2 separate regions of the Homo sapiens genome follow, and region 2 is linked to region 1. The links come from fine-mapping of genetic effects on gene expression. A gene starts in region 1. The other region holds a variant in brackets. All regions are shown on one strand. Distances are from middle to middle. Region 1 holds the start of ELFN2 (extracellular leucine rich repeat and fibronectin type III domain containing 2). Region 2 holds the start of LOC105373024 (a long non-coding RNA gene).

What was found.
Region 2: its variant is fine-mapped to the expression of ELFN2 in liver (GTEx, PIP 0.94).

What each region holds. Positions count from the first base shown.
Region 1 is chr22:37,423,027-37,435,068 of GRCh38, forward strand. It overlaps ELFN2 (extracellular leucine rich repeat and fibronectin type III domain containing 2), which reads right to left and starts at 4,453. Exons shown (of 3, transcript NM_052906.5): 1 at 4,272-4,453.
Region 2 is chr22:37,321,618-37,333,659 of GRCh38, forward strand. It overlaps LOC105373024 (a long non-coding RNA gene), which reads right to left and starts at 10,519. Exons shown (of 4, transcript XR_938232.3): 1 at 10,276-10,519. RefSeq lists enhancers at 5,700-6,899, 7,347-7,992 and a silencer at 8,891-9,185. The variant A/G (reference allele first, on the strand shown) is at 5,232.

The sequences.
Region 1 (12,042 bases):
CCACAAGCAAGATGGCCAGGTGGGGAGTCCAGGGGGCCACAGCTGAGGCCACGATAGACTCGGGACCTGAAGAAGATACTGATCCTGGGGCAACCTCCCCACTGTCACCCGGGGGAGCCCTCCAAGCGCTGCTGTTCGAGGCACTGTGGGAGGGCCAGGGAGCAAAGGGCTGCCTTTGGGGGTGTCCCATCTCTGTGGGGAATGGGATGGGGGGTTGAGATGCAGGCACCACCCACGAGGCCCCTCCTTTCCTGTCTCTCCTTGCAGCCAAAGCAAAGGGCGTCCGCCACCCCCAGCTTCCCTAGGGCAGGGTCACTGCACCCATTTACAGATAAGCAAAGCAAGGCCCAGAAAGGGCCTTCAGTGAGAGGGGTAGGCCAAGATGTAGAGGCCTCCAGGCCCATCTGGCAAAGGAGTTCAGCAGCCAATGGTGCTGATGTGAGAGTTTCCCTTCGAGGGTTCCAGTCCTGGTTCCATCGCTGTGTGGCCCTGGACTGGTCTGTAACCTCTCTGTTTCTTGTCTTCAAAATGAGGAATAATAATAGTGCCTGCTGCAGCTGGCTTTTGTGGGACTAAACGAATGCCGCCCATAAAGAGCTTCGAACCGGGCCTGGCTCTCAGTAGGGGCTCAATAATATTAGCTGATATCATTATTATTATTATCACTATAGTTATTACTATTTCAATCAGCAGCATCGTGCAGCCAGCACCCTTCCTCTGGCACCCCAGGCATAAGCAAGCCTGCCCAGGTGGCTCTTGAGTCCTCAGGGCTTCTCTGGGGCTTTCCTGGGGACTGTCGGCAGAGCTAGGGGGAAGGAGAGGGGGCTCAATTATTCCAACCCCCAGACACCATCTCCAGTAATAATGTCAATGCCTCTGCCCCAGGTGGTAATTGAGCCAAGAGAAGGTTAATTTAATCAGGGATTGGGCTGGGACGGCAGGAGGCAGAGGACTGGGTAAACCTTCTAGACGATTAACACAGCTCCTGAAGAGGTCTAACTTGCTAAGAAGCGTCAGGTTTCGAGGCAATCCTACTTCTCGGCCATCCACTCCACACAGCACATGTCACAACATGGGGCAGGTGGGGGCACCGAGAGAGGAGCTTGGCCCCCAGGCACTGTGGCCGGAGCAGGTGAGGGTAGCAGCAATGTGTGCCTCCCAGCCCTGCACACGGTTGTCACCCTTTCACACTCACACATCACACCCGCAAGGGAAGCTGCCACCACCCTCTTACAGAGACAGGAGAGGCTGACCTCTGTCACACACAGCCAGGATGCAGATGCGGCAGGGGTGTCACTGGAACCCAATTCTGCTGCCAAAAACAAGCATCCTACAAGACCTCAGGGGATATTGAGGAACAGGCATGGAGCCCCCAGTGACCGCCCTAGACACGCCCCACTGGAGAAGGCTTGCTGAGTGTGCCCGTTCCTATCACGCTGACTGTTTCTGGAGCTTGTGGGTGGAAGAGCAAGAGAGCACTGACCTGGGAGTCAAGAGCAGCCTCTCCTCCAGCCAGAGACTCTTGGCCTTGGGCTCATCACCTGGCACCCCACCACCAATTCCTCATAGCTCCATATCTCTCCAGGAAAGGAAGGTACCCCTCGAGAAGGGGCTGGGTAATCAAATGTGTCTCCCTGTAGCCACTGAGGGCGGCGGGGGGGGGGATGGAATTCACATTAAATCAACAGACAGCTTATTCCAGAACTCAGTTTACTCATCTGTCAAATATCCACATAATAGTGGCTAACTCACCCACCTCAAAGAACTGCCGTGGAAATCCAAGGAAAGAAAAGAAAGTCCTTTGCAAAGTTAGACTTAAACCAAAACAGGAAAGCAGCTACTCTGGGCTAGGGGGATAGGAGGTGAGAGGACAGAGCTCACGTGGACTGAGCCCCCACCATATGCCAGGCATCAGCACCCGCCCCCCACAAGGCCCATGGTCTCCTTAACCCCCTTCACCTCTCTAACCCCTCACCCCATGTTACAGAGGAGAGACTGAGGCTCAGAGAGGCGACGCGAATGCTTAAATCACAAAACACAGAAAGCAGCAAAATGGGATTCGAACCAATGGCCTCACGCTCCCTGGCTATGGCCATTTTCTATTGTCACATGCACTGACACACTCACTCATTAAAGCACATCCACCCAGGGGTGGTGGGCCTGGCTGGGATGAAGAGGAAAACAGGGACTGGGGAGGTCAGATAGGGGGCTGCAGCACATTGGAGGCCTCCAGGCCCACCTGGCAAAGGAGTTCAGCAGCCAATGGTGCTGATGTGAGAACCTCCTTCGGGGGTTCCAGTCCTGGAAGGTGCACTCTTCAGGGGGCAGGACTTAAGGAAAGGGGTCCCATGCCCACTCAGGATGCTGGGAAAGGCGGCCTCTTGGGAGGGACCACGCCACGCGTCCTAAGGCTCCATCCCTCTCCCCTTCCCACCCCTCATATACAAGAGACATAACCACACTCGGCCACACACACTCCCGTGACATCACATTTACACACTCTGGCTGGGGGGAGCAACCTCCGACAAAACTGTCCCAGTGACGTCACCTGCGGCCTGGAGCTTATGTCACACCTGAGGTTCTCACTGACCTCACATACATACTTTTTCCTGATGTCCCCACAATTAACACTCTTTCTTCCTGCCTAGGCGTTGATGGCCCAGAGGTACCCACCTCCCCACCCACACAGTTGCAGGGCCCCCGGCTCATCAGGACAGCACCTGCCTGTGCACCCCTCTCAGGGGACACACATGCCCACATGCTTTGCTGATGGCCCAGACGTGACACGTCCCACAGGTGTCCACGGGCCACGAGAACAGGGGTGTCAGCCATGCACATACACATACACACACACACACACACACACACACACTCCCAGTCCCATCTCATGATGCAACTTGCATATTAAAACGCCTCTCGGTAACCGCGCCGGGCAGTCCGCGCCCCACAGCTTCCACCACATTCCTCCAGGTGCTGCCAGCACCCCACTCCCTCCAGCTTTCTGACTCCGACAGCCTGGCCTGCTGATAGCGACAGCCGCAGCCCAGACACACACACACACTCCAGCCCAACACCTGCGTCTCAGCAAGGGACCAAGGCAGTGCCCTCCAGCCGCAGCTGCTGGGTGGGAGGAGTCCAGGGGGAAGGGGCACAGCACAGAGCCCTGAGCTGCAGAAAGTGCCGAGTACCACGTTCCTCCCCAGCTGAGTGCACGGTCAGCACCACTGTCCCCTTCTCGTCTCCCTCCTTGGGCACGCCTGACACACCATGGCCTGTGGCCTCTGTTTTGGACACAAGCTCCCCGAGTGTGCATGCACACGCGCGCGCGCGCACACACACACACACACATCAGCTCCCTTCCCTCCAAACATTCCGAGGAAATCCTGCCAGGCCACTGACAGTGTGCGTGTGTGCGCTTGTGTGTATACAGACAGAGAGCAGGGTCCACCCCATGTCCACACACACACGCACACACCACACACACACAGCACGCACAATCCTCTCCACATGCACACGGCGCCCCACCAGCCAACACACCCACCCCCTCCCCGTCCCCTGACAGCTGCTGGAGCCCACACACGCACGCACACACACACACTGGCACGCGCTCGCACACACACACAAACACACACACACACACACACCCGGCAGTGGCCCCGGCCCTGCCAGAGCTGCAGTGTCTGCGATTTATGCCGCCTCCCTGGGCTGCCTCCCTCCTTGTCCCTGGCCAGCGCCTCTGAAAGGGTCCCCACCCCCCAATTCTGGTCTTACCAACCCCACCGCCGTCAAGCCCCACCCTGGCCCCCCTTCCCCTAGAAGGCATCCACCCCGTCAACCCCTCTTACCAGCTAGAGGATGAATGCCTTGACCCGGCAGCACCCCGTGAAAGAGAGGGGTTAGGGCCCCCGATTCGAAAAGATGAGGGCAGAGAGGTGCAGTGTGGCACCGGCTGGCACACCGTCCACCATCGAGCCTCTGCACCACCCCCAGAAACGCTCACCTCACCGACCGTCCTCGGTGTCCTCCCACCGCCTCCGCCCACCGCCACCACCACCACCTCCCTCGCGCAGGGTGGTCCCCCGGGGGTCTCACGGGGATCCCCAGACCCAGGAGACACTGGGGGTGGCTCTCCCCGTCTCATCCCCCCTTCCGTGTCCCTCTCCAAGCCCCACCCCCACTGACGGAGGGGGTGCCCTCCGGCTCCAGCCCCGACTCCCACCGTCTCCCCGGTCGGTCGGTCGCGGCGCTCGGATCCAGAGGAATTCACTTACCCCAGCCCCAGCCGGGATCCGGGCCAAGCACCGCCTCCGGGAAGCGGCGGCCGCGGGGCCTGCGCGTGTGAGTGTGAGTGTGAATGTGAGTGTGAGCGCGGGTGTGGGTGCGGGGTGCGTGGCCGTGGGGTGGCCCGCGTGTGTCTGTGTGTGTGTCTGGGAGCGCGCGTGTGCGCGCAGACGCCGCCGCCCCCTCCTCCCCGCCGCCGCGCCTCTGCCCCTGCCTCGGCGGGGAGGGCGCCCGGGAGGGGCCAAGCGGCGCGCGTCAGGGACCGCGGCAGGCTGTGTCCGTCTGTCCGTCCCCGTCTGTCCGTCCGCCAGCCCGCCCGCTCCCGGTGCCCTCCGCAGGCCTTTCCGCAGCAAGCCCGCTCCCGCCCCCGAGCCGGCCGCACGCTCCACGGACACACGCGCGCTCGCAGACACACGCCCGCGGGGCTGGGGCCGCGCCTGGCGCCGCCGCTGCAGCTGCAGCGCCCGGGGAGGCGAAGGCGGCCCCACGGACCCGAGCCCCGGCCTGGCGGACCCCTGTCCCGGCCGCGGCCCCCTGCGCTGCTCACCCCGCGGGATCCGGGTCCGGGTCCGGGTCCGGCCTCCGCCAGCGCATTCAACAGCTGGGGGCAAACTTGCGGCGGGGCCGCCCGAAGTGCGCCTGGACTCGCCCTCCCCCTGGACTCCGCCTCCGCTGATGGGCCCCCTCTCCGCCTTGTACCTCCATGCCCTGCCGCCTGCGCCCTGCTGGTTGGTCCCGCGTTCAACCGCTGGCGACTGGGGAAGTGCGGCTGCTGCGTTCCCATTTTACAGGCCAGACAACTGAGGTTCGGAGAGGAGTGATTCCCCCAAGGTTACACAGGGAGCCTACAGACAGTATTAGACTTTACGCTCCCCTACCTTGTGCCAGGGCACTCACTGCCTTTCCCCACCCCTCCAGGAGTAGGTCCAAGGGATACTGGGCTCATCTGTAGCTAGAGAACCTTCATTAGCCTTCCAGAGGCCCAGTTCCCCGCCCCTTACGCCAAAGCCCCTGCCACCTGCTGCCACCTGCAAAGGGGTGGATGCTGGGAGGAGGAGGAGGAGGTGGAAGATGCAAGAAGCCTGGCACCCGGGGCCTATAACTTGGTGCTTGGGCATGCAAGCACCTCCTCCCGAGGCCCTGCGAGCTGCATGTCGGAGGCCTGCTGCCAGCAGGCCCTGTACTTCTCCATCACTTTTATAGGACCGCATGCACCAGCGCCTGTTCTCAGGTGTTGCACAGCAGATGAAGTCCAGGCTGCGGGAACTCCCCGTCGGGACATCTCATGCAGGTCTGGAATAAGGAGACTCCCCAGAAGAAGCCACTGCCTGAGCTGAATCTTGATGGATGAGTAGGAGTTGGCCAGCTAAAGAAGGAGGAGAAGGGTGTCCTGGACTCTGGGAACAGCATGTGCAAAGAGGCACAGAGGCATGAAACAGCTTTGTATGTGTGTACAGGGAACTCCACGGAGTTGGGTATTAGTAGAGCAGAAAGAACGTCTGTCCAGAAATTCCTCCCTCCTTTCAACTAAGAACAGGGAACGGCCCAGGATGGGGCTGGGAGGGCAGACAAGCACTGGGTCACAGGCCACTTGTTGTCCTGGGGTATGCAGAAGGACTATTGGGCGTTCCCCACCTGCACCCCAGGCTGCCTGGCACACTCCTACCCATCCTTCAAGGTCCCTCGCTGCAAACCCAAACAAGCCATGTGCTGTCTCTGCCCTCTAAACTGAGCCCTCCTACAGGGCAGGGGCGGTATCCAACACATGGTGTGTATCCCTGACAAGGCTGGGCAAGAAGCAGGGTCCCAGCTCCAAGACCTTGCTGGAAGAGCCCCTCAGGCGGAACATAACGGCCTCTGCGCCCTCTGGCGGATCCCTCGAGAAATTAGAGTGCTCCCCAAGCCAACAGCCCCCCTGTGGCTCTCAGGCCCAGACACTTTCTGAGATGGGCACTGGCAGATGCCACCTAATCCGCTCCTGCCCAAGAAACTGAGCAGTGATGACCCCAAAGAATACCAGGGAGTCAGTGGCAAAACAGCCTCTTGCTGCTCTGTTTCCGAGACATTCCCAGTCATCTTCCAGAGTGCAAGTCACAACCCTCTCTGAGCCTGTTTCCTCCTTTGTGAAAGAAATATAGCAAAAGCAGCCAGTACCCCCAGCACAGTGCCGGCCACTCCCTTCTCCCTGGAGACCTCCAGGTCTGGCTGGATTTGGTCAGAATTTGTTTGAAGCTCTAAAACGGTCTAAGAATCTCCCTTTGGAGACTTTGCCCTTACTGGGCAGATGTACATTGACAAGAGTTTCAGCTCTTAGCTGACTTTCTGCCACCATATAGAAGATAGAGTTGGCCTGGCCTGAGGGTCATAGTGGACCACACCATCTAGACACTCGACTGGGCTTTCTCTAGACCATAGTGGAAAGGATACATGTCTGCACTGTCAAAGACAGTAGCCACTAACTGCATGTGGCTATTGAGTGATTGGAATTGTGGCTAATGTGGCTGAGGAACTAAATTTTTAATTTTAATTGTTATTACTTTAAATTTAAATAGCCATAATGTGGCTTGTGGCTGCCATGTGAGATAGTGCAGCTCCAGACATATAGCAAGCTCCTTATTAAAATCAAGCCCAGGCAGACCTAATGCACACACACAAACACACAGACACACACACAGGGAACCCTGAGGACCTGGGAATGCGGGGAGCGGGGAGCTCAGGAGACTGCCTAGAATCCGTAGCTGAATGGTTAAGACCGAGACAAACGTAAGCAATAACATGTCCATTCCCACAGTCACTGCCCCAGACCAGGCTTGCCGTCACCTGGATACCTGCAACAAACTCCCTCACCACCCATCTGTTTAAACCCTCCAGTAGCTCCCCAGAGCCCATGCACAGAGGCAAATATGTTCTCTTTCTCATGACAAGTGATTGGCAGCAGCTGCCTAGAGGTGCTCACCCTTTGCAGAAAATGGCATGATCAATTGGTGATGTCTGCCTCAGGAATAAATACAGAGATGAATGGTAAGCCCTCTCTGCTACAGGATAAAATCCAAACACTATTTATTTATTTATTTTAGAGACAGTGCCTCTCTCTGTCACCCAGGCTGGAGTGCAGTGGTGCAATCTCCACTCACAGTGGTGCAACCTCCGCTCACTGCAACCTCCGCCTCCCAGGTTCAAACTATTGTCCTGCCTCAGCCTCCCAAGTAGCTGGGATTACAGGCACCCACCACCATGCCTGACTAATTTTTGTATTTTTAGTAGAGACGGGGTTTCCCCATTTTGGCCAGACTGGCCTCAAACTCCTGAGCTCAGGTGATCTTCCTGCTTCAGCCTCCCAAAGTGCTGGGATTACAGGCATGAGCCACCGCACCTGACCAAAACTCCAAACTCTTTAACTTGCCTAAATAAGGCCCGTTGCAGTTGGTCCTTATTTATTCCTCCAGCATCTTCAATATCATCCCACATATGTTCTGGGTCCCAGCAACACCAATATCTGCCCTTTCCAGACTCACTTTCTGCCACCATATAGAAGATGGAGTTGGATCTGTCACCCCATCATCTTCACACCTTTGTGCTTTTGATCCTGTTCCCTTGATGTGGGAGGACTTTCCTCCTCTCAGATCCCTTCCCTACCTGTCTACTTTCTACCTATCCTCAGGTACTGCTTGAAAGCCGCCTCCTCAGTGAAGCCTCCCCTGACCACTCCTAAACTGAGCTGGCTGAGCTACTTCCTTCTCCACCGGCTCCCAGAACACTCTGCAAGGCTTCAGTGACAGCACACATCACATCATGTCATTATTCATTCTCTATGTGTCCACCTCCCCCAGCTTATTCTTCACTTGGTCACCTCTATCAAGTAGCAACCATGTGTCAGGGGCTCGCTCAGGGCCAGGCACTGTGCAAGGCCATTTTCACACATTATTCTTATTAATAAGCCACCAATCTAGACGTTAGGAGGTTCTCTTCCGGGCACACAGCATCCACCCCCCCTTCCCACCAGCGCCCTAATTTCTCCTCTCCCCACCACCATGGACAGTCTTGGAGGAATGTGAATCCAGGTACCACTTCCTGCCCTCAGCTGGGCTAATTGCGCTGTGGGTGGAGTGACGCGTGCACAGGAAAATTAACCGGAGCAGAACCATCCTCGAAATGTCAGTGCCAGGTGACATGGGTGGGCTGGGCACCTGCCCTGCATCCCAGAACCCCATCTGCTCGGCCTTCTCCCAGAGGTGCACAGGAGCTGCCCCTGGCTGACAGCTCACCAGAAAGTGCCCTTTATTTTCAAGGTGAACAAGCATGGCCCACATCCAAATGATCCCACTGCCCTGGCCACGTCACTAGAAAGACATTTTTTCCAGAAAGTCGTCCTTTCTTCAAAGCTTAGAGAACAGAGGAGGAAGAGTGAGAGGAACATAGAAATGCTAAAAGCTTCACGCATTGTTTAAGGTGAATAACAAGATTTACCCTTTGTACTTAGGTGAAATTTTCTTCACTTGGTCTCAGTGGCATTTTGAGTTGATGCTAAGAAAATTAGGTTAAAGTGATTCTTTCAGAGAAACACACACACACACACACACACACACACACACCCCAGAGCTTGTGCGGGGTGTCACATTCCTCCTTTGGATCCAGACCTAAAATCACATTTCTGTTGCGCCTCCAGTACTGGAACTGAGGACATCAGCTCGCTGAGGACAGGAGCCAGTGGTGAGACAGAGCCTGGAAGAAAAAGACGGGCCTGGAAGGCAAAGCGTGGTCCTTGCCCACGGTGGAACCCTGCCAAGTGGACTAGGAAGAGATGGGGGCTGAGCTGCCTTCTGGGGAAGGTGGGTCCTCTTATCTAGGAGTGTTTTGTTTTTCTGGTCACTGTGACAGGTCAGGGCATGCAAGGATGAAGGTAGTTGTCAGATGCTGGGGCCTGGGGGAGAATGAGTAGGAGAGAGAAGAGACCACAAGTCGGGAGGAAGGTGACAGGGAGGGAAGCCGACCCGCCCAGGAGGCCTAGTTGCGAAGAACACATGTATTTCTAGGAAGGATTTTGACATTCTTTTGCTGTGGTGTGTACATTACGAGCCCCCTCCCCCACTTCAGTCTCCCTACCACCTCCTTCCCCCCACTCCCTTCAGAAAAGTCTGCGTGTTTCTCCTATGAGTCATTTATTGCTTTGTAATGAATTACCTCAAAACTCAGTGGCTTAAATCTGCAAAATGACATGCTTATTATTTCACAGTTTCTGTGGTCAGGCATTTGGGAGAGGGTGATTCAGCCTTGAAATGTCTCATAAACTTGCAGTCAAGATGTTTAGCTGGGGCTCCACCCATCTGAAGGTTGGACTGGGGCTGGCGGATCTGCTTCTGAGATGCTTCCCTCACGTGGCTGGCAGGGTGGTGTTGGCTGTTGGTGGGAGTCCTCTGTGTCTTGTCACATGGACCTCTCCATAGGACTGTTTGAGTGTCCTCACAACATTGCGGCTGCTTTCTCCAGAGTGAGAACAAGTAGGAAGCCTGTGTCTCTTAAGACCTGTCCTCAGAAGTAACACTCATTTTTGCTTTCCCGTTGGTTCCATGGATCTGACCCATTCATTGTAGTGAGGGGACCACACAGGGGGTGGAGCCCAGGAGGGAGGTACCATCAGGAGCCCTCTTGGGGGCCAGTGGTTTTGAGATCAATCAATTATATTTGGGGAAGTTGAGGAAGTTCTGTGTTCTGCATCCAGACTATCAAAGACGAAAACAGAACTAGAGGAGTGGCAGCCAACACAGGATGGCCTGATTCCTTAGGAGTCCATGATTCTGAGAGCCTATGGTCTTCATTGTTTATAGACCAAGGGCAGCTCAAGGCTAATGATGCATAAAGAATGTGCATAAAGACCCTAGGGCTGGACAAGAGTCAAAGGTGGCCGAAGGTGTGGCCCCAGTGAGGGGGTGCCTGTGAGGACCAAAGGCCAGGGCCACACTCTGGGGGATATTTTGAAGTGTCCACGTGGATGCCTGTAGGTCCAGAGACCCAGCTATGGGAGGGACCCCAGAGAACCCTATTAGAGGTGCTGATGGCACCCTGCTTGCCTGGCTGGGGCTGAGATGACTGGATGGTGAGGTTTGCCAGGCTGCCTCCCCGCCAGTCTTGGTAGAGCAGCCCTGGAGTGTGCTGTCAGATAGGGAGGGGACAGGAGGACAATGGGGGACACCCCTTTTGACACACCGGCTGCCTCCACTAGAAGGTGAGCCATTTTCAGCCAATTCAACCATCTAATCCAGATCTGTGCCATGGGTGCCCAGCCCCTTGCCAGTCACAAGCAGGTGCTTGGGGAGGGTCCTGGTGAGCTGCCCCACCCAATGGTGCAAGGGCCAGACCGAGAGTGTCCATCCCCCTCCCCCCAACCCCGAGGCCTGCTCCAACAGAAGCGGGATCTGCCGAGTGTTTACAGCCCCATGGCAGATGGCCTCCTCTCAGCTCTCTGAACCAGGAGACTCCTCTGAGACACCCCCAGGGAGAGCTGGAGGAGGAGGAAGGAAGGCTCAGATCTCTGCATCTGCCTGACTTATTCTGTCCCCTAGCCAGAGGCCACTGCACCCCGCACTATTGTGTGGCTGCCATTTGGATCTGAGCACCCTTGCAGGGAGCTCTGGAATTCTGCGGGAGCCACAGCAGGGGGAGCGGAGTTAGCCTCAGCTGGCTCAGCGGCTACGAGGTCAGCCCGGCAGCCTGCATTATTAAACCATCTATCTGGCTCCCTCCAGGGAGATGCTGGGGGTGGGGGCAGGCTGCTGCCTGGGTCCGGAACTGGGGCAGCCGGCAGCTCCTGGGAGCTGGAGGTCACCGGCCTCATGGCTGGGCTTGTCACTGCTGACCTGCTGCCGGCTCCGAGGTTCCAGATGCTGTAGGGGCTAGAAAGGAGCTGACTGGCTGGTTTCTTCATGTTCTTTTTTCTGCTCAAAAACTTCTGGTCTCTGACTCCACAGGGTAAAGCGCCAGCTCCTTACGCTGGCATCTGGAGTTTTCTGCAACCTGGCCACACTCTTCCTAAAATCGTAATAATAGCTCAAAAAGGAGGTGTTTACTCTCCTTCAGGCTTGGTGCCATGTGCTCTACATGAATTAAAGTCTCTGTGAATAATGACAACAATCTACGAGGTACTTCTGTTATTCTCATTTGACTGCAGAGGCTCAGAGATGCTAAGCAATTTGACCAGGATCACACAGTGAAGAAGAGGCGATGATTCCCCCAGGCTTTCCTGCTGATGCAGCCAGGCTGTGGCCACGAGACGCTGGGGATATTTTAGGCTCAAAGCCCCATTCTTAGCCCTACAATCGCTTGTCACTTCCCAGAGTCATGCCTTTCCTGAGGTTCTCTCACTGTAGAATCTGGGGGACTGACGGTCCCTGGGGAGGGGGATGCATTGTATATATTCCCAAGACTCCATGGCAAAGGGAGGGTTTGTGTGGCTGCTACCAAGTTACTCAGGCTCAAATCCCAGATGCTACCTGAATGCCACCTGGATGCCACCTGGGCTCCTGTCAGCTCTGCCTGCTAAACCTAGCCCCTCCTCTCTCCCTCACTGCCACAGAAGCAAAGGCAGGTGGGTCCCATTCACCTTTGCGTGCTCAGGGTCTGGCATGCAGATGGCACTCCAAAAATATTTGCTAAGGAAAATGATCAAGTGTATGCCTGCGTGAACAAACGAAGGAAGAAAAGAAGAGGGAGTGGCCAGCATGAGGAGAGAAAACGGATGGGTGAACAGGAAGGCTGGTGAATTCG
Region 2 (12,042 bases), 100 kb before region 1:
TAGAAAAAAATACCTGGTGGGTATTATGCTTATTACCTGGGTGACAAAATTATCCGTATACCAAACTCACATGGCAGTTTATCTATATAACAAACCTGCACATGTATCCCAATCCTAAAAGTTAAAAAAAAACCTAGACCAAGAATTCCTCTACCTGATAATTTTGTAAACATTTCAGAATATTTCCAACACACCTGTTATGTCTCTGCAATGATACTGCAAATGCAGTTTTGTAACCTTAAGCCAATTTTTTTTTTTTTTCTGGAGACAGATTCTCGCTCTGTCCCTGAGGCTAGAGTGCAGTGGCACAATCTCAGCTCACTGCAACCTCCTCCTCCCAGGTTCAAGCGATTCTCCTGCCTCAGCCTCCCGAGTAGCTGGGATTACAGGCATGCACCACCACACCCGGCTAATTTTTGTATTTTTAGTAGAGGCGGGGTTTCACCATGTTGCCCAGGCTGGTCTCGAACTCCTGACCTCAAGTGATCTGCACGCCTCGGCCTTCCCAAAGTACTGAGATTGCAGGTGTGAGGCACCATGCCCGGCCTAACACTTAAGCCTTAAAACTATGAAATCCGGATGTCCACGTGTATACCAGCCAGGACAGGTTAGGTTACACTGTGGCAACAAATATCCCCAAATCTCAGTGGCTTCACACACCACAAGAGGTTATGTCTTGCTCACACCCTATGCCCTGGGATTGCAGGGTAGGGATCGGCATGGAGTCTCTGCTTATCATAGTCACTCAGGGACCTAGGCTGAGGAGGTGCCATCCTGGCATGAATTGCCAGGAGCGCTGTCTGGATGTGACATGCCACTTCCGCTCACATTGCATTGGCCAAAACATGTCACATAGCTACCTCACTGCAAGGCCAGATGAAATACCATCCTACCACCGGCCATGCAACATGGGAGGACAGTAATACTTGGGGTGTGGCACTAGTGCCGATTATAGCTAGGGTGACCAATTGTCCCCATTTTCTCAGGACCAAGGAGTTTTCCAAAATGCCGGCCTTCTTGTGCTAAAATTGGGAAAGTCCTGGGCAACCCAGGAGGACTTGTCTGCTCCTATTGTACCACGTTGTGCGGTCTTTACACACTCACTTTTCAAAACTGCACAGCAGCCATCTTTTAGATGAACCAAGGTTTCTCTCCCCAGTCCCCTATTGCTGGAGACTCAGACTGTTTCCAGTATTCCATGTTTATAAATACATTGTCTTAAATACCTCCATGGATAAAACCATGTCTACTTCTCAGTGGCTTCTCAGAGGTGCCATTGGTGGCCGTTTACAGGCTCACAATACCTGTTATCCATAGGTAATTCAAAAAGGTTGAAACAATACAATTTGCCTTCTGCAGCGAAAGCACGTACCTGCTTTCCTTACCTTCTCCTGGAGCCCAGAGCAGTCATTCTCTAATTGTAGCCTCCAGCTCACCTGGAGAGCTCCTTAAAACAGATTGCTGGTCCCTAGCGCCAGAGTTTCTGATCCACGGGGGCTGGGATGAAGCCTAACCTTTGCGTTTTTGTGTGTGTGGTTTGTTTGTGGGTTTTTTTGTTGTTTGTTTGTTTGTTTGTTTTGATGGAGTCTCGCTCTGTTGCCCAGACTGGAGTGCAGTGGTGCAATCTCGGCTCACTGCAAACTCCAGCTCCCGGGTTCAAGCGATTCTCCTGCCTCAGCCTCCTGAATAGCTGGGATTACAGGCGTGTGCCACCACACCTGGCTAAGTTTGTATTTTTAGTAGAGACCGGGTTTCTCCATATAGGTCAGGCTGGTCTTGAACTCCCGACCTCAGGTCATCCACCTGCCTCAGCCTCCCAAAGTGCTGGGATTACAGGCATGAGCCACCGCGCCCGGCCAGATGCCACCACTTTGCCACCGAACAGGTGACCCTGCTCAGCTACTCACCAGAGGTCTAACCTGGAGCAAATTATGCAATTAGCCTCTCTTAGCCTAGGTTCCTATCTGTGAATTGGAGCAGTTGGGAGGATGGACTACCAGGGTAACCATGAGTTCAGTTAAAAATAGTTACAGTTATTCAGCGGTAAATTAAATAACTTTATGTTTTAAAATATTTGTGAGTTTGAATGGAACTGCATTGATTAACATTTGTATTCCTTTCATATCTGAGTGGGAATGGACTTTCTCCCTGTGAGGGTTAAGCATTTGTGTTTCCTTTCTAGTGTGAATCATCGCTCCTGCCCTTTGCCCATTCACCTGCAGGTTTCTCTGCCTTTCCTCTCCGTCTGCCTGGGATCATTACAGAGCAAAGATAAACCCCCATGGCCGTTCTTGATTGCTAGAGATTTTTCCAAAGCTGTTGCTCACCTGTCTGCTGGGGCCATTTTTCTGGCTTACAAAGTGGCCGAATCCATCTGACTTTCCCATTTTTATTTTCTCTATCACTTTTAAGCTTAGATTGGAGCCCTTCTCCAGAATGTGACAATATAAAGGAAATGGATTTTGAATGATGAGATTTCCTGCACCTTGAGGGGTGGTGGGGGTGGGGGATCCTGGCTCAACTCAAACCCTGTGGTGGTGATAGAAGGCATAGTCAGAAACCAAGAGCCCCTCAGCACCAGGACAACCCACCACCCTCAGCTCTCCTCGACATTAGCCACGCTGTCTCTCTCCCCATTTGCAGAGTCCCCCCGCAGAGAGGCACAGGGCAGGCCAGAGCTGGATGCGCGGCTGGAAGGTCAAAGGCATCATCCTCAGGTTGGAGACAGGATGACCGAAGGTGTAAGAACTGGCCAGAGGAGTTGGACAACTCCCAGCTCAGGTCTCTCCTCGACTGCTTTGGCCGTGTGAGCTTTGCCTCTCTGGGTCTCTGTTGTCTCATCCATAAAATGGGCCTGACCATGCCCAAGTCAACGGAAGGATTTAAATAGATCAGCGCCCTGAGGTCGGTGCTGGACGCCGAGTACACGCGCCCAGTACACAGGGCTTGAGCTCATTACACGCCCCAGTTCTGTTCCTGGGGTGGTGGCGTGAACCCCACTGCCTTTGCCTTTAATTGCACTGAAAATATCCAGCACCGCTGATATCAAGGGCCCAGGTCCCGGCGGAAATGAACTCCCAGACTTGGGCGCCCAGGTTTCCGTGCGCGACCCCAGCCCCTCCGGCTGCAGCTCAGCCCATCGGCCCTGCGCGGGAACAGTGTCACCCGGGCACCCGGGCCAGAACAGGCCACGCGTGTCCCAGGAGCGCGGGAAGCTCCCACGCCCCCTCCCCCGCACCGCTCCTTTGGCTGGCAGAGCGGGTCCTCAGCGCGTCTCAGCCGCACCAAGCGCCTCCCGCTCCCGCGCCACCCGGGCGCGCTGCTGGGGCCTGATTTCCATAATAATCAGCCAGAGATCTCCCGAAAAGGCTGGGAGCGGCCGCCGCCGCCCACCGGGGAAGCTCCCGAGGGTGGGCGCCCCCCTTCCCACCCTCCCTGCCGCCGCCGGGAGGGAGCCTCGTTTTTAAAAGCTTTCGAGAAACCGTCCGTGCGCAGGAGGCAGCTGGGAGACACCCAGGATGTCGTTCTCCGCATTAAGGAGGGGGACGGCGGTGGGGGAGGTGGGAGAGGCCGCGGCGCAGGTGTAGACCAGGCTCAGAGGCAAGGAGGGGAGGAGGGAAACTGAGGCAGCCGCGGGGTGGGGAGACGTTTCAAGGTATATTCTCACTGCAGCCTCACGGCGACCCTGCGGGTGAGTTATCTGCTATGCCCCACTTTACAGGTGGGGAAACTGAGGCCTAGAGAGGTTTCCAGTCTTCCAAGCTGGCAAGTGGCTGGGCGGGGACCCTTTTCCGAGTTGGGGGATTCAGATCCCCTGGCCTGCCCGGCACACTGCCTCCTGCCCAAAATGGGCAGCGTAGAAGCAGGATGCTCTGTGCATCCCAAGATGGGAGAACCAACCCGAAAGGGAAAGACCAGGGGGCTGAGGTCCGGCACACACTTGGAGCTGATCTGGTCCAGAAGCCCGTGGGCTCGCAGAACCTAGTTTGAACCCCAGCTCTGCCACCTCCCAACCATCCCCCAAGGGGTGGGCAAACTACAGCCCCTAGGCCAAATCCTGTCAAACTGTTATGGTACAACCAGAAACCAAGCATGTTTTTTTTTCTTTTTTTTCTCTTTTTCTTTTTCTTTCTTTCTTTTTTTTTTTTTTTTTTTTTTTTTTTTTTTAGATGGAGTTTTCGCTCTTGTTGCCCAGGCTGGAGTGCAGTGGTGCGATCTCGGCTCACTGCAGCCCCTCCCTCCTGGGTTCAAACAAGTTTCCTGCCTCAGCCTCCCAAGCAGCTGGGACTACAGGCACGGGCCACCACACCCGGCTAATTTTTTTGTATTTTCAGTACAGATGGGGTTTCACCATATTGGCCAGGCTGGTCTCAACCTCCTGACCTCAGGTGATCCACCCTCCTCGGCCTCCCAAAGTGCTGGGATTACAGACATGAGCCACTGCACCCGGCTAGGTTTTTTCTATTTCTGAAGATAAAAAAAAAAATTCCTGACATGTGAAAATTATATGAAATTTGAATTTCCATGTTCATCCACTTTTTTAATTAAAATACAGCCACACCCACTTATTTCTGGTACTGTCTATGGCTGCTTTCCCTCTACGGTGGCACCGTTGAATAGTTTTGACCAAGAAGCATGGCTCGTAAAGTCAAAAATATTTACTATGTAGCCTTTTCCAGAAAAGCTTTGCCCATCCCTGCAATAATGGGGCAACGATGAAGCCTCTACGCCTCGGTTTTCTCACCTGGACAGATGGGAATGCCATTAAGTGAGGATGAAGTGAAGGCTGGGAAAGCCCTGAGCACAGTTGGCAGCACCCATCTTAGAAATGCCTTTGACCGGCCCGGTGCAGTGGCTCACGCCTGTAATCCCAGCACTCTGGGAGGCCGAGGCAGACGGATCCCCTGAGATCAGGAATCCAAGACCAGCCTGAGCAACATGGAGAAACCCCATCTCTACTAAAAATACAAAATTAGCCAGGAGTGGTGGCGCATGCCTGTAATCCCAGCTACTCGGGAGGCTGAGGCAGGAGAATCGCTTTAACCCAGGAGGCAGAAGTTGCAGTGAGCTGAGATTGTGTCACTGCACTCCAGCCTGGGTAACAGAGTGAGACTCCGTCTAAAAAAAAAAAAAAAAGAAAGAAAGAAAGAAAAAGAAATGCCTTTGACTTTTGCCAAGCCCCTGCTGCTTGCTGCCTCCCCATCCCGAATCACGGCTACCTGGGTGGATGC[A/G]CTTTGAACTCAAGATATTCATCCCCTGCCCCCATTCATCCTGCTTGTCCTCACTCCAAGCTTATCAACCTGGCCTCCAGCCACCCTCTCCCGTCAGTGACCCAGCCTGACCGGTTCCACCTCCAGCACCCAGCACAATCCCTGCCCCACACTGGTTCTTAGCAAACATTTTCTTTCTCTTTTTTTGAGACGGAGTTTCACTCTTGTTGCCCAGGCTGGGGTGCAATGGCGCAATCTCAGCTTACTGCAACCTCTGCCTCCTGGATTCAAGCAATTCTCCTACCTCAGCCTCCCAAGTAGCTGGGATTACAGGCATGCGCCACCATGCCCGGCTGATTTTGTATTTTTAGTAAAGATAGGGTTTCACCATGTTGGTCAGCCTGGTCTCGAACTCCTAACCTCAGGTGATCTGCCCACCTCGGCCTCCCAAAGTGCTGGGATTACAGGTATGAGCCACCGCACCCGGCCTCAGCAAACATTTTCTAGATGGATGGATGGATGGGTGGATATTTTGCAGTCTTTCTCCATTCCTTCAACTCTAGCCTCCATCATCTCCTTCCAGGTCTCCCTGCTCCCCCCTTCATTTCATCCCCGACTCTGTAGCCAGGGTCACCTGCCTCCTCCCTGGATCCCCAGTGCAGCACAGGTGCTGAGCCACCCCCCTCCACCAAACACCCAAACTGCTAGCACTTCCCTGAGCCCAGCAGGTTGTATCAAGCCTCCAGATGTTTGCCCATTCAGTTTTCTCTGCCTGGAACCTTCTTTATTCCCAGTCCAATGGGCTTTGCATCCTCTACTTGACCCCCAAGACTTAGTTCAGGACCAAAGCCTTTGAAGCCATTCCAGGTCTCTCCCCCTTCTCCCACTGCCCCAGTATACAAACCTATCTCGGTACCAGTGGGACTTTGGTACCTTTATGAATATGCATGAGTTTCTCCTGGTGAGCCTGTGAGCCTCTTGAGGGCCAGAACTGTGACTAGTATTTCTTTTCTTTTTTCTTTCTTTTTTTTTTTTTTTAAGACAGAGTCTCTCTCTGTTGCCCATGCTGGAGTGCAGTGGCACAATCATGGCTCACTGCAACCTCCACCTCAAGCGATTTTTCTGCCTCAGCCTCCCAAGTAGCTAGGATTACAGGCGCCCACCACCACACGCGGCCAATTTTTGTATTTTTAGTAGAGATGGGGTTTCACCATACTGGCCAGGCTGGTCTTGAATTCCTGACCTCAAGTGATCCACCCACCTCGGCCTCCCAAAGTTCTAGGATTACAGGTGTGAGCCACCGCATCCGGCCTATGACTAGTATTTCTGAATCACCAGTCCCAGCAAAGGCATGCCGCGGAGAAGACAATAAATTTTTAATAAATGAGTCAACGGAGGAAGGAAGGAATTAATATAGCTGGGATCATCTCCCTCCCTGGCTCAACAACTTTCAGATGCTTCCCAGGTTCTCTCTGTCAAGGCCCAGCCTGGTCTTCAAGTCTTGAAGCCCTATATGAAATGGCTCTGGTTCACCCCCGCAACCTTGTCTCAAGCTGCATCTCCCATACAGTCTTCCCGAAGCAGTCCTGGCCTCCAAGCCTCCATTCATGCAGTTCCCCCTCCCTGTTTCTCCTCCTTAGCCTACCCACATTTGTGCCTGTGGGGGCCCTGGCCATCCTTGGAGATCTTACAGGGCTTCAGCAATCCAGGGGCACCTGCAGTAGGGACCAGCTACCCCATTTCCCAAATCCCACAGCAGAAGGCAGTGAGCAGGGGCTTTGACCAGGAGGACCTGGGTCCCAAATGAATCCTGCCAATGTTTACTATGGAGATGTCAATTCGGCTCTTGGAGTAAAGAGGAAGAGTCCCTTTTACTTGTCTCCTGGGGCTGCTGTGAGGTTAGAGATACTGTAACCTCTCTAGCGCACAGTAGGTACTCAATAATGGACAGCTATTTCCAGCCTGTACACAACACTTCTGTCCTTCTGAGAGGAGGCTCAGAGAGCAGACCTACAGCTCCCCGCAACCTGCAGCCCCAACCTCTCTCTCTCTCTCCCTCTTTCTCTCTCTCTCCCTCTCTCTCTCTCTCTCCCTCTCTCTCTTCCCCTCTCTCTCTCTCTCTCCCTCTCTCTCTCTCTCCCTCTCTCTCTCTCTCTCTCTCTCCCTCTCTCTCTCTCCCTCTCTCTCTCTCCCTCTCTCTCTCCCTCTCTCTCTCTCTCCTCCTCTCTCTCTCTCTCTCCCTCTCTCTCTCCCTCTCTCTCTCTCTCTCTCTCTCTCTCTCTCTCCCTCTCTCTCTCTCTCTCTCCCTCTCTCTCTCTCTCTCCCTCTCTCTCTCTCTCTCCCCCTCACCCCCGACAGTGCCTGCAGCCACCGACTGATGCTGGCGTGGACAGAATGACAATGAGGCCAGGACCTAAGCGAGCCCATCTGGGAACCTAAGACTGTGGCAGAGGCTCAGATGAAGCCAGGGCTTGGGAGGGGCTAGACAGGGACGGGGCAGGCAGGCAGGGCAGAGCAGGGATAGGAGCAGGGCAGTGATCTGCCACTGACTGTACAGCTGGGTGTCAGCTTTCCCTTCTGCCCAATGGGTGAATCATTCCCCCTCTCAGGTCTTGTCCTGAGTACCAAGGGCCAAGTGAGAGTTTGGGATGAAGAGGGACAGAGCCAGGCAGGGCAGGAGCCAGGGAGCAGGGCAGCGGCAGGGTGGGACCAGGGGATGGGGTTCACGATGGAGATGGGGCTGGGGCAGGGACCAGTCAGATTTCTGATTCAGAGCAATTCAGATTGCTTGGGCAATCAATCGGACAAAATCACCCCCAGGGCAGGAAAAGAGACAGTGAGAATATTGTTGGAGGGGGTGGTGCGTGCAGGGAAGAAGGAAGAGGGAGAGAAAGAAGAAAGAAGGAATCTGAGAAGAGACCGTGGAGGGGACGGGGAGAAACCATCCCCTGCTGGAGTCCTGGAGGCAGCCCCACTGGTGCCAGCCTTCTCCTTTGGCCGGTGGGACCTCTGTGGCCAGAGGGCCAGGGACTCACCCAGGCCCCAGTGAGGGGGAGGCAGAATGGACAGAATAGGTGGGAAGACGGGCATGGGAAAGGGGTAAAAGGGGAGGTAGGGTGTGGTTGGCACAGGCCTGCATAGCTAACAATCAGAGAGACGGCCGCCCCTCCTTTTCGAGTCCACATCACAGGTGGAGGGGCCAACTCTTGCCACACGGCCAGCTCATTCCACCTCATTGCCTTTGCCCAAGCCAGTGCCCTGCCTGGGGTGCCTTTATTTCCCTACCCTCACCCCAAACATTTAATCCTCCTCCCTAATTCCTCCAACATTCACCCCAGCCCTGATCTCCCTCAGCAATGACTGTCTCACCCTCACCCTCAGAGCTTGGTGTGAGCGGGGTTACAGTCTGGTGGTCCAAGGATGCTTGCTGGTGTCCCATAAATGTGCTTAGTCCTCACAAGCAGCATGGACGAGCATCACAGCCTGGTGGTTAGGCTCACAGGCTTGGGACTCCACTGGGCCAGGTTCTAGTCCCAGCAGCTTCGTTTTCACATAGTAGTTGCTTCATAAATGCTAGGTCCCCTCCTCCTGTTCCATTGCTAGCTCAGAATGTGCACACAGCAGGTGCCCAGTGGTGGCTTCTGGGCTGAGGTGCCCTTCTGTTCCCTAGTGGGCCCCTTGTCCCTGACAGGACACAAAGATGTCACCCCTGCCTTGGCCTCCAGGCCCAAGCCTGAGCAGTGAAGCTTGGGAGAAAGGCCCCATTGCTCATTCCCCTTGAGTCTGCAGCTTGGGCAATCAATCGGTCGCCATGGAAACCAGCCTTCCAATCAGAAGCAGGCACTTCTTGGCTGCGCCAGCGCCACCTACCCACCCACTCAGGCCTGGCTGTGCGGTCCCTCACCTAGGACTGCCAGGGGTTGGGGGCGGGGAGGAGAAAAGGGAAACTGGCATAATTGGGGCACACCTGCTTCTATCCCTAAAGCCCTGAGAGTCTCCAAAGAAAGAGCATTTTCTTGGGGTGGGGGTCACTACTTCAGTGGCCCCCTGATTTTTACAGCATTCATTCCTACAGAGTATGGCCCTTGGTACTCAGAACAAAACCTGAGGGGAGGGAATGATTCACCCATTGGGCAGAAGGGAAAGCTGAGACCCAGCTGTAGGGTCAGTGGCAAAGCTAGGTGCATGCCCCCTCCCTGAGCCCCCATCTCCTTCCCCCTCCTCCCTGGCCTGAGGAATGGGACAGGGAAAGGAGGGGCAGAAGAGTTCCTGGCCCACTGCAGCCAGCACCTGCCTTCCCACTAAATCTACGCCTGGCACTTCCAGGGCCCATTAGCGCCGGGCCCACCAGGGCCCATTAGCCAGCATCTATGGGCCTCTGCACCCACCTGCCCACCCACGCCCAGCTGCAGCCTCCCGCCCAGGCCCCTCCTTCCCCCACTGCCAGCTGGGATTGGACAGAGCCCAGGCTCTGAGTCACACAACCCCACGTTCAACAACTGGCTCCTCGCTGCTGAGACTAAGCAAGCCAGGAAACCTCTCTGAGCCTCAGTTTCTCTGTTTGGAAAATGGAAAGAATTACTCCTGCCTTACAAGGGAGTGATGAGGACTCAGAGTGCATAAAGAGCTTAACACAGGGCCTGGTATGGACTCAGTAAAAGGGAGGCCACCTTCCCCATCCCTGTTCCCTCTCAGTACCCAAAACTGTCCCTTGGAGCTGAGCTAAGGCATCCACCTGCCAGGAGAAGGTAGAAGACAAATTCTACTATTCTTAATAACCAGCCCAGGAAAGCAAATTACAAATAAGATTTAGAGAAGGGCAGCAACTTGCCCCCTACCCCAACACTGGGAGGGATGGGTAGGATTTGAACCCAGGTCTGTCTGACTCAGACCTGAGCTGTCTCTGCTGCAGCCCAGCCTCTCCCGACCCTGACCCAGCCCTGCTCCAGCCAGCCAAAGCCTGTCACCCTGGGCCACTAGTGCCCAGCTCTGCACTGACAGAGCACCTGCTATGAACTTGGCATGCCAGGTGCCCACCACCACATACAGCACCCCCAGCACTTACAGGGCTGCAGAAGGGAAGTCGAAGGGATGTTGAGTCATGCTGGGGGATCTGACCTGGTTGAGGATGCTGGGGAGACTTCTGGAAGGAAGGCGGAGGCTAGACCAGCTCCCAGCCACCACACAGCTGGTGCTGCCGCCTGCTGTTTGAAGCTTTTGCCCTCTCGGCCTAGAAGTCTCCCATTATGGTGCTGTGTCTGCTGGGACCCACGGGGCGCTGCACAGGGAACCATGTGGCCGTGAACCTCAAGTCCAGCCCAGCAGGGGTCAATTGTCTCAGCCCACCCCTCCCTACCCCCAGTATCCTCTCTCCTTTATAGATCATCCATTAAGTGCCAGACACTGCAGAAGGCACATTGACTAATATTAAATATTAGCCCAGCTACCCTGCTGGGCTGTCCTTCTTAGAAATGAGGAAGTGGAGGGTTAAGTGGATTTCTCAAGGTCGTGCAGCTGGTAAATGGCAGAACCAGGATTTGAACTCAGGTGTGCATGACTTCAAAGGAAGACACCACTGAGGCCTCCTCTACTGGGTCTGCCTCCCTACCGCCCCTGGCTCCTTGATGAAGACTCCTGTAGGACAGGATGGAGCAACTTGCTTCCAGCTATTATGAGATTTCTGCTTCTCCCTTCTCTCCTCCAGAAAACAAATTGATTCATCAAATTACACCTTTAATCTGTCCTAGGGAAGGGGAGGAATGGGACTCAGCCCCCACAGCAGGAAGCAGGACGGGTAATCAGCCCACCCGTCCTCCCCAGCTCAGGCACAGCCACCCATGCTCTATCCTCCTGTGATTAAACACTAATTGCCGCTATGCTCTCAAATTGAGTATTTCAATTTCCAGAAACGCAAAGTACATTTCAATCAGTTCCTCTCCCAAACCGTTCCTTCTCAGGAGCCAGGACAAGAACATAAGCCCCCCAAGGCCATAGACAGCTAAGCCTCACTCCTGTACTCCTGCCGTCCCTCTCCCCCGCAACCACCGCTTCTCTCCTTCCCGGGTACCCCGTGGGGGAGCTGTGGGCACTCGAAGTGTGTGGGAGCATCCAAGAGACCCTACAATTGTCAGCTCAGAAAAGTGAGGCAGGCCCCCCCAACCCTGGGGTCAGACAAGGGGATGGGGACTGTCCACTAGAGGCAGGGTCCAGGCTGCCTGCTCCTCACCTGCCCCCGACCTTCTCCCTGCACACGGTCATTAGACGCTCATCCCAGCCTTCGGAGTGGACAGAGGCTGGGCAGGAATCCCAGTGGGAGCAGAGACTGGCGGGATGGACACCTGGCCCTTAGTTCCAACTCTGCTACACATCTCCCCTCTCTGGCTCTCAGTGTCCCCATCTGTCCCAGAAAGGGGCTGGGGAGGGGCTCACAGTCGTAGCTGGAAGGTATGTGCTTCCCAGGCACAGGCCCAGGGCCAGGATCCGGCTGGCTGCAGATTCCCCTGGGGGTTCTGAGGAGGGGCCAGAAATTGACTTTTTTTTTTTTTTTTGACGGAGTCTTGCTCTGTGGCCCAGGCTGGAGTGCAGTGGCACGACCTTGGCGCACTGTAACCTCCACCTCCCGGGTTCAAGCAATTCTCCTGCCTCAGCTTCCTGAGTAGCTGAGATTACAGGCACCTGCCACCACGCCCAGCTAATTTTTGTATTTTTAGTAGAAACAGGGTTTCACCATGTTGGCCAGGCTGGTCTCAAACTCCTGACCTCAAGCAATCTGCCCTCCTCGGCCTACCAAAGTGCTGGGATTGCCGTCGTGAACTGTGCCTAGCCAAACTGG